Regions from separate parts of the Homo sapiens genome. Here region 2 is linked to region 1. The links come from fine-mapping of genetic effects on gene expression. Tissue or cell type: whole blood. Region 1 holds a variant in brackets; the other region holds the start of a gene. All regions are shown on one strand. Distances are between the middles of the regions.

Region 1 (5,179 bases):
GAGCAGGGAGACCCTCTGTCCCTGAGGCCCTGGTCCCTGCACTTCTGCCTGCAACCCTGTATCCTATCAGGCACCTTTCCCAGCACTGGGATGCATATATTCTCTCTTTGGCTCAAACTGTCCCATGACACCTCCTTCTCCTGGAACCATGTTCTTCCATCACAGATCATATCAAGACCTTGATTAAACTTTTTTTTTTTTTTTGAGATGGACTTTTGCTCTGTCGCCAGGCTGGAGTGCAGTGGCGTAATCTCGGCTCACTGCAACCTCCGCCTCCCAGGTTCAAGTGATTCTCATGCCTCAGCCTCGCGAGTAGCTGGGATTACAGGCACCTGCCACAACGCCCAGCTAACTTTTTATATTTTAGTGGAGATGGGGTTTCACCATGTTGGCCAGGATGGTCTTGATCTCCTGACTCTGTGATCTGCCCGCCTCGGCCTCCCAAAGTGCTGGGATTACAGGCGTGAGTCACCACGCCCGGCCAATTTAACATTTTTCAACATGTGATGTTTTCACCTTCTCCCGCATGAATGTAAACACCTTGAGGTGAACTCCCTGTCTGAAGTTCTCACTGCAGCCTTCCTTGCACCCAGCACAGCATCTCAGGTACACTGGATGCTTGGCAGCCAAGCAAGGAAGGCCATCTGTGCCTCCACAGCTTTGAGACTAGATGGACTACATCTACCTTTGCATCTGGCCAGCATTCCTCCAAATGTAGGGTATACTAGGAAGGCTGGGCTGAACCACAGGCTCCATGGAGTCTCTTGAATTTATCTGGCTACCCTCCTGGAAGCCCAGTACTGGAAACAAAGCCCAGGAGGCCCACATGATGCTGCTCTGGGGAGCAGGCCCTTGGAAATGAAACCCCATGGGTGAGGAAGCCCTGATTGTCTGGATAGAAAGTTCCTGAGGTAGATTTGGGGTTGCTTTTTCTTCTAGAGACTTCTAGATACTCTAGATATTCTCTCCTTCCTGAGGCAGACTTGGGGCTGCTTTTTCTTCTAGAGACTTCTAGATACTCTAGATATAACTCTAGATACTTCTCTCCTTCCTGATGACTAAGGATGTTAGAGTAGCTAATGAGTGTGGGGCATGAGCCACGCACCTGGCACCTCACTAAGTACTTCACACACATCATCTGCTCAAATCCCCCACATGACTCCATGAGATGGGCATTATCATCGCCAGGACACAGCTGAGGAAACTGAGGCCAAGAAAGCTCCCAAGGTCACCAGGCTGGGAAGCAGCAGAACATCTCAGGCGTGTTTGCCTGTCCCCTGCCTTCCAGCATCTCTGCACCCTCCCCCACGCCCTGAAGGAAGTGGGGGTGGAGGAGAGAGCGCTGCAGGCAGCAGATGAGCTCTTGGAAAACTGGGAGGTTTCTCAAGATAGGAGCTGGGAGAGAAATGCCACAGTTAGGGCCCTCCTTGAAGCTACCCACAAGGGCTCCGGAGGGGTGAGAGTGCTCTCTTACTGGAGTAGTCAAAAGACAGTCTTGCAGCATGCCGCCCCCTCCCCTCCTCGATATTCTCACTGCCAAATGAAATCTGGCAGTTTCTGAAAATAGCTCAGCGCTGCAGCAGGCACTCTGCCCGCCCTTCAGCAGGCTGGCACACAGCTGGGGGTGGCCACTCTGGGCAGATGCTGGCACACACAGGACCGGGGGTAGGTGTCACACACACTGCACAGGGGCAGCACAGAGCTGGGGGCATGTGGCAGCTGCCATCCCTCAGCTCTTCTGACCTTTCTAGGCCTGGCGAGGACTCTGGCCTTGGAGTTAGCATGGCATGCTTATCAGGCCTGAGGCACCCCCTCCAGCTGGGGTGAAATCACTAGTGGGTCTGAGAAGCTGCCCTTGGGCCACCTTTGTCCACCCCTGTAGACAAAGAGTAAACCCAGGAGCCAAGAGAAAATGATGAAATGGTGTTTATTACTATCTGGATGTAAAACCCAGCAGTGTTGTCCTATCTGACATGGTCTAGGGTTTCCCAGCCAGTGAGAGAGGGGCCAGGAAGGAACTAGGCTGCGTGTCAGGCACTTGTCAGGCAGTATCAGGCACTCAGCACCCTAAGGCTACCATGGTGGGGTGGGGCTGGTAAGCTCTGATCAGCCAGGAAAGGCCCTCTCTGCCCTACTCAGGCCCAAGCCAGGACCAGACATTCTGAGCATGGCTCAGTCGCCTTCCCCAACCTCAGGTCTGACCCAGAGTAAAGAAAGAGACCTCAGGTTAATGGGAAGCCACTTAGCTCTGCTCCCAACCAGCCACTTTCACACAAGTATACCAAAAGATAGCCCCTGACTTCAACAGAGAGGGGCTTTCCTGCCTGAGATCTGGTGAGCAGATGGGTGCAGGGAAAGTATGCTGGCTTTTGTCACAGTGACATTTTCCAAAGTGGAAAAAAGTTAAAAATATCTCCCACCTTAAGTTCAGATGAAAAGTCACCCTTTGGGTCGGGAATAGTGAGGGGATGGCTAGGCCCAGGGACTCCCTCAGGGGAGAGCGCTGAGTGCCATCTGGGCTGGGGCTGCAGCAAGGCAGGGCTGGACTGCACAGGGAGGCAGGCAGACCGGATCCAGCAGCCTCAGGGCCCAAGGAGGAGTGAGAATGAGAGGGCCAGCCAGTGTGTGAGAAATCAGCCTCCCCAAGGCAGAGGTGAACCCTCAATCGCCCCTCCTCCCTTACTCGCTCACTCAGCATTCACAGGCAGCAACGTGGTCCCTGGTCACCATGGCAACCAATGGCCAATGCCTTTCTCAAGGCCAGGCCCATCTGCCCATCCCACAGGGAGATGTCTCTGTGGAAGATGGGAAGCCCAGCCACAACTCCCAGTGGCCTAGAAAGCTAAGGCCATGCACCAGGGCAGGACAGCACAGAGGCCTCACTCGGGCCAACCTAGCTAAAGGTGCTGCTATGGCAGCAGGCAGCTCCCAGCCCCTAGG[C/A]CCTGCCCATCTCTAGGGCTTGAGCCTGGGCCAGAGATCTGAAGGAGGTTTAGGGTCAGGGTCCTCCATCCTGAAGTTCCGAGTGACAAATTAAAACACAACAAAATAATCCTTTTGTTAAAAGAATGACCCTGGGCCCTCCTGGCCAGGGCCTGAGCACATTTCAGTCTGTTATGCAGGCTGAGAGGCCAGGCTCCTCCAAGGCCCCATGAGCTACTGGTTGTTGCAGCCCTGTGAGGCAGAGGAGCTGCCTGCCTGCTTTTTTCTCCTCTTGTTGAGGAGCCGGTTGTTAGAGGTCTTCAGGTCCTTGATCTTCACCTGGTCGTAGTCTACCCGCATAGTGGCCAAGGCACTGGTCATCTCCTCCTGGGGACAGACAGGATGGTGGGCACTAAGAGGTCAGGATGTACTGACCTTAGGAACCATCACCCCCCTGCCTGGGCAGCCCCTTAATGTCAGTGACAGCCTGTGCTGCCTCTGTGCCCACTGTGTGCCCAGCACTGGGCCAAGCCCTTTGCATCACATGATCCTCACTACCGTCCTCTGTGGTAGACACTGAGCTTATTCACTAAGGCACAAAAGGAGAGTTACTCCCTCGGACCACACCAAGGGTAAGTGGGATAGTGAACTAAACCAGTTCCACCACAGAACCACAAGACCTGCAGAGAATGCCATCTCGCTGGGCAACCAGCGCACTGGGGCCTGGAGATTGTGCCACTGGAGCTGCTACTCCATATGTTCAAACGTGGCCTCTGCTGGGTCTAAACCAGGCTGACCACCCTCCCAAATGTTGTTGGTTATAAGAGAGGTCATCATCCAAGCTTGGTACCAAAGCCCCGTTTCATTGAGGAAGTGAGCCAGGAGCACCACACTGAATGGCGTAGTGAGGCCCAATCCTTGGAGTGCCATGGTTGGACCACTGCGACAGTCACTGACACCCTGTGCTCCAGGTATAGAAAGGGGCCAAAGACCCCAGACCCTGGGTAGCCACCCCCCTGAAGTCCCTTTTGCCCAAATCCTGGCACCTGTATTGAGACTGAGGCAGAGCCCACCCACCTTGACTTCGTCCCAGTGGTCTTTGTCCTCCTGCAGCACTCGGGCCGTGTGGAGTGGGGTCTGTGGCACTACCATCGATTGCTGGAAGGAGCCCCACGCCCGTGGATTAGAAACTGGAGGCACCTGGGACAGCACTGGTTCCCCCTACTCCATCCTCTTCTCCCAGACTCAGATGGAAAAACCAAGGCTCAGGGTGGGGAAGGAGCCTCACTAGGGCAGTGACAAAGCCAGGTTGTAGGTGAGGCCCTAGTATCTACCTGTGTGCATGGGCCCATTCCAGCCCTGCACTGGGGCCTCAAAGCAGAGCCACCACCCTCCTGCCCGGCAGCCCCACTCCTGTTGGACACCCTGCCTGCCATGGGAGGAGGAGGGGCTCACGTTGATCCAGGGGTGGTTCATGAACTGAGTGATGGTCAGCCTCTCTGTGGGGTCTGTCTTCAACAGGAGGCGGATCAGCTGCTTGGCTAGGGGGGCCAGGGAAGAGAGGGGAGAGATGAGATTGCAGAGCCAGCCCCTCCACCCTTCCCCACAGACCACAAGCTCTGCTGGGGCAGGGGCTGCATGTGCTCCCAAATTCCCAACCCACAGAAAGAGTGAGCTAACAACTATTTCTTGTTTTGAAACACTAAGTGTTCAGGATAATTGGTTAAGCAGCAGTAGATAACTCATACAGGGCAGCCTTGTTTGTGGTCCTCAAAGGGGAAAATATGAATGAGGAATAGGAGTTAGAGGGAGTTTTGAGGAGGCAAGTTTTGAGCCTGTTTGGCAGATGTAGAAACTGAGGCTCAAGAAGGTTAGGGGACTTGCCTAGGGTCCCATAGCTGGAAAGAGGGGGAGCCAAGATTTGAACACAGGTCAGTTTGACACCAAAGTGATGTTTCCCAGAATGAAAGCCGCAGGGGCCAGGTGAGTCAGGCTGGGACAGAGAGGTTCACTCACCATCCTCAGAGACTTCTGACCACTCAGGATTGGGGAAGCCGTACTGGCCCAGGCGAATCCTCCTCTTCATCCCCGGGGAGATGGCCTGGCCCGTGTTGGAGTAGAAGGGTGGGAAGCCACAAAGGCTGGGGGAAGGGGTAAGTCATTTGGCATAGGGTGGGAGCAGTGCCAGGGTGGACCCATTTCCCCTCAAAAGCCCCTGACTGGGGAGACAGACAACCAGACACCATAGCAATAATACCAG
Region 2 (5,113 bases), 21 kb before region 1:
CCTGTACGTTTTCTGAGACCATAATGAAATAGGTTGGAAGAGAGAACTGAGATGTTTACCTCAGCAAGTCACAAATCGGCAAACTCAGAAACTCTAATTAATTAAATTTCTTTGTTATAGACATATTGGTTTTAATTAAAAATTCATTGCAATGTCTTATTGAGTAGCTATAAAAAAGATAAACATGATAGAGCAATTTAAAAAACAAAGTATGCAAACAGTTTCACTTATCATGTCACTGTTACTTTTGGGTTTAACTCATTACCTTAGATGATAAATTGCAACTCGATGAGCAAGGAAGGAATCAAGTTTTCTGCAGGAAATTCGTTAAGACTGGTGGCTGTTAAAAATAGCCGATACCCAAACAAATTTTATAAATAATTTACAAGAAATGCAGACAGCATCATCTTTTTCTCTTAGAGTTTAAGTTGATCAATAATTTTTTATCACAAGCAAACTCCATAATGGTAAATCCCCCATCACCTTTGGTGAATGATACTGGCCCTCTACAAAGCTCGATGAGATACACTTCATATCTTCTCTCCTTGTTTTCTGCTGCCTAGAGAATCACACAGCAGCATTTAAGGAGCCAGCCAGTCTGATGACTCAGCTCATAAAACAATGTGTGGCCACAAAGATGATGTTTATCCATGAGCATTCTGGAGGCTCTTGCTACTGAAGTCGGCAAGCAGTGGATAAGTGGCACACGATGCTCATTCTCAAGAGTTTCTGGCAGCGGTGCCAACACAGCACTCACTTCCCTCTCTCAGCAGTTGATTTCATCTGATGCTCTGTCCAAACAGAATGGTAGAAAAAAACATCAGAGAAATGCAGTGGGTATAGAGGCAAATCCAAACAAAGTGCAGGTGATAGTGGTGACATTCTGCCTTCTCTTGATCAGAAGGTGTCAGCAGCTGGAGCTTATCCCCATATGAACCCCAGGGTCAGGTAAATGGAAGACTTAAGAACACGTTACCCAACTTACCTCTGCCCTTCTGGGTTCCTCAAGGAGGGGGTCTGCTGTGGTTAGTAAAACGTCTGCGGAGCTAGTTTCCTTCATGGCAGAGAGATGCGCAAGCTAGTCTCACTTCACCAGCACCTCTTATTTACCCCAAAGCAACACCTTTTAGGAAGCCTCCTTTCAGGAGGCAGCTTTGGAATAAGGGGCTAATTCAAAGTAAGTTAACACAAAGGCTGTACACAGTGGCTCACACTTGTAATCCCAGCACTTTGGGAGGCTGAGGCAGGCAGATGACTTGGGGCCAGAAGTTCAAGACCAGCCTGGCCAACATGGTGAAACCCCGTCTCTACTAAAAATACAAAAATTAGCCAGTCATGGTGGTATGCGCCTGGAGTCCCAGCTACTTAGGAGGCTGAGACAGGAGAATCACTTGAACCCAGGAAGCAGAGATTGCAGCGAACCAAGATTGCTCCACTGCACTCCAGCCTGGTGACAAAGTGAGAATGTGTCTGAAAAAAAAAAAAAGATAAAGTTAACACAGAGATGGCTGACACAATTAGAGCACTTTCAGGTGAAGAGACCTAAAGTGTCTAAGAAGATATTAGTATTTTGCTTTAAGTTTTGTTGCATCTGAATATATTTTCAGTAGGGAGGGGATAGGGAAGAGTGTGACAGGAAGACAGATTAAGCAGTACAATATTTCATTATTTTCCCTAAAATGACAAACTTTAACCATCTGTTCCTATTTTATCAACCCATTCAAAATGTTATTAAAATGTGGATTTCTTTCAGTTAGCCAAGGTCTTCAAATGAGAAATGGCCAAAGCTCTCCTGATTTTAATTCGTGGAGACTGATGTGGCACTTCTGGATGGGCTCTAATGAATAAGCCCCACCATGAGAAGCACCCCCAGATGTTTCCAGATGTGTCAGAGAATTCCCAGCACTTGCTTGCTGCCCACTTGACTGTGAGCTACCTGGAGACAGCACCATGCTATATTCTTTTTTATTTTTAGTGCCTAGCATGCAGCATCTGACACATAGTAGGTGCTCAGTAAATATTGTTTTAATTAATACATTAGTAAATGAGTGCTTTTAATGTTTTCCAGAAATTTATATTTTTGTTCCAATAGGGTTTTTGTTTGCATGTTTATTTTCTGTCCAGGAAAAAGGGCGGAGATAGAATCAAAAACAAGATACCCCCTGGAAGGAAGGGCAAATAGATAGAAACTTGGCATTACCTAGATCTCTTTTCCCTTGGGGGGAAATAATTATGTCCTTAAATTTCTGCACTAAGTCACCAAGGAGGGCTTGAAATTAAAAACCTTGGAGAGTAATTAGCAACAAAACGTTCTGATGTCAAAAAGCACATTTTATAGGACCACATTTGTAATATTAATTGGGCCTCTGCATAGCCAAATGGTGAAATTATTGCTACAATACAAACAGGCCCAAAAGAGAAAAACAGCCCAAAATAGCACAGATATTCCAAATCAGGACAGAGGTAATTTCTCTATACATAAAAAACCACCAATTGAATGCCTTCACCAACTCACTTGAGTTAAATGAGTTAAAAAACAAAAGCCTGTTGAGTAGTGTAGCACCACCTACCCCATCTCTGAAATGCTATGGGACTGGGGCTAGGAAAAGAACCGAGACTTTATCCCCACCAGCTTTTCATACTTTTTATCTTGAAGTGTAAAAAGTTTGAATCATTTATTTACCAAAAATTTATTGAGCACCTATTATGGGCCAGGTCCAGAGCAAAAAAAAAAAAAAAAAAAAAAAACAGCGAGCCACTGCACCCAGCCTCTCTTCATGGAGTTTAGCATCTAGTTGGGAGAAGAGACACTGAACCAATAATCACACAAGCAAATATCTAATGAGAGACACAAGGACAGGTGCAGTGGCTCACGCCTGTAAATCCCAGCACTTTGGGAGGCTGAGGCGGGCAGATCATTTGAGGCCAAGAGGTCGAGACCAGCCTGGCCAACATGGCGAAACCCTGTCTCTACTAAAAATACAAAAATTAGCCAGGTGTGGTGGTGGGTGCCTGTAGTCCCAGCTACTCGGTAGACTGAAGCAGTAGAATCACTTGAACCCGGGAGACAGAGGCAGAGGTTGCAGTGAGCAAAGACTGCACCACCACTGCACTCCAGCGTGAGTGACAGAGCAAAACACCATCAAAAAAAAAAAAAAAAAAAAAAAAAAACGAAGAGAGATACAAGTACTAGGAAAGAAGAGAAAGAGAAAGGGTACATGTACAGAGGGAGCCTCAGCCAGGGATTCTGACCTAGTTTGCAAATAGGGAAGACTTCCTGGAGGAAATGATATTTAAACTGGAGGCTGACAATACATACAAATTAGCCAAGTAAAGAAGAGAAAAGTGTTCTAGACAGAGCAAGCAGCATTTGGGAAAGGTGAATCTGGTGAAGAAGGAGCTTAACGTATCCAAGGAATGGAAAGGCCAGTGTGACCAGGACATGATGTGTGAGCGAGCAAGTGGGGAGTGGGGAGAAATGTGCGGACTAGAGTGGAAGATAGGGGCAGCCGCTGGGGCCTTGCCACGTCCCATGACATTAGGGAACCAGCCATTGACAGACCTTGGGTCAGAAGCAGAGATAAGAGACATGAATAAGAACATGATCTCCCCTCAAGGAGATCCTGGGCTTGTTGAGGGAACAGCCTAGGAAAAGGCCTATCCTCTTGAGTCCTGGGCTCAGAGGCACCACTGCACATTCCCCAATTCTCTGAGCACCAACAAAGTCTGTGCAGAAGCATCTAGGACCACTGCTCACACAGGACCACTCCAGGCTTCTTTCTCCTCCTTGAGCCAATCTTTCCTTTGTTCTCAAGATGGCACATCTGTGCCAGGCTCCAGCGCTCATCTCCCGGGTTTGGAGGGGAAGCACAGCTTACCTCCCTACACAGCCCACTCTCCAGGTTCTGTGACCCACTGCTTTAGCTGTGGTCTCAACACCTTGCTTGTCCCTCACACCCCTGCCCATGCTAAGGGTCCAGGGAAAGAATGTTGCCAGGGGCACCAACAAGCAATTGGCCCTGAATCTGATCAAGGATTACTGCTAATCTCTTCCTTGAGGAACATTTAATACAGGATGCCAAAAAAGAGAAATCTTTAGAGAATTCTCTCACAAGATCACACCTTAGGACTTGTACTCGGAACATGCAGGGCCCTGACCCAGGGAGCAGCAGGAATAGTACTCACTCTGTCACCACTGAAGAAGAGCAACTCTAAGAAATGGGGACTATTCTGTTCTCCAATTAGCATTGAGGGTGATGGATCAGAATTTATAATATGCAGTTATGAGTTATGGAACAATCAGAGAAGTGATCCTGATTCAGAAACCTGCCATTCCAGGAGCCATGGCAATTTTTCATGAGAACTCATCATGGGGTGGCCCCTGCCAAAACCTCACTTGCACCCAGCCTGTCCCAGCCCCAGTCTGTCACTCCAGCCCACTGACAGCCTCAGGCTTTTTCAAGTTTCAGGTGACCTAGCAACAGGGAATAGAACTTGAGAGCTCTGGAGTCAGAGCTGGGTTCACATCCAGCTCCAGATAGATACTTCCTAGCTGGGTGACCCCAGGCAAGTAGCTTAATCCCTCTGAACCGAGTTTCTTCCTGTCAGGTGGGAATCAGAATGGCTTCTACATCAGGGATGCTTCTGAGGATAATGCCTGCAAAGTTCTCAACACAGAGCCCGGCACAAGGTAAATGCTCACTAAACTTTGGAACCTTGCTCCCCTCCTACCAGCTCAAATTGCTTCCCAGAAATGCTGGGTCTCCTTGCATTTGTGGAATCTGCTTCTCCTCCAAGCTAGCCTGCGAGAGCTGGTTTGGTCACCCCTGCGCAGCTGGGCTGGCCTCCTGCGTCTGCCTCTTACCAGCCAGCACTTAACTCAGCATGAGCCTCTTCTCTCTATTTAACACCAAAAGAAATTGATTTCCCTAAGCTATTTCCATGATGCAGCACCCCTGAGAACTACATATTGCATCAGTTCTCCTCCATGACCATCAAACCCCCTGCTCACAGCCACTCTCCCTAGAGCCACAGGGTCCTCAGCTGCCAAGGCATAGATCTGTTTCATTTTGCACTTGCTTAAAGGTCAAACATGAATTTCTCCCCATTATTG

Evidence for each region. PIP is the estimated chance that this variant, and not a neighbour inherited with it, causes the effect.
Region 2: LINC02019 starts here. The variant in region 1 is fine-mapped to the expression of LINC02019 in whole blood (TOPMed, PIP 0.98).

What each region holds. Positions count from the first base shown.
Region 1 is chr3:50,646,021-50,651,199 of GRCh38, reverse strand. It overlaps MAPKAPK3 (MAPK activated protein kinase 3), which reads right to left. Exons shown (of 11, transcript NM_001243925.2): 8 at 4,936-5,060; 9 at 4,375-4,460; 10 at 3,997-4,077; 11 at 1,909-3,306. The coding sequence ends at 3,154. Among named protein-coding and RNA genes, the nearest start is that of LINC02019, 21 kb to the left of the region's middle. RefSeq lists enhancers at 1-122, 1,578-2,131, 3,623-4,122. The variant C/A (reference allele first, on the strand shown) is at 2,941.
Region 2 is chr3:50,667,049-50,672,161 of GRCh38, reverse strand. It overlaps LINC02019 (long intergenic non-protein coding RNA 2019), which reads right to left and starts at 2,723. Exons shown (of 2, transcript NR_183733.1): 1 at 986-2,723; 2 at 111-791.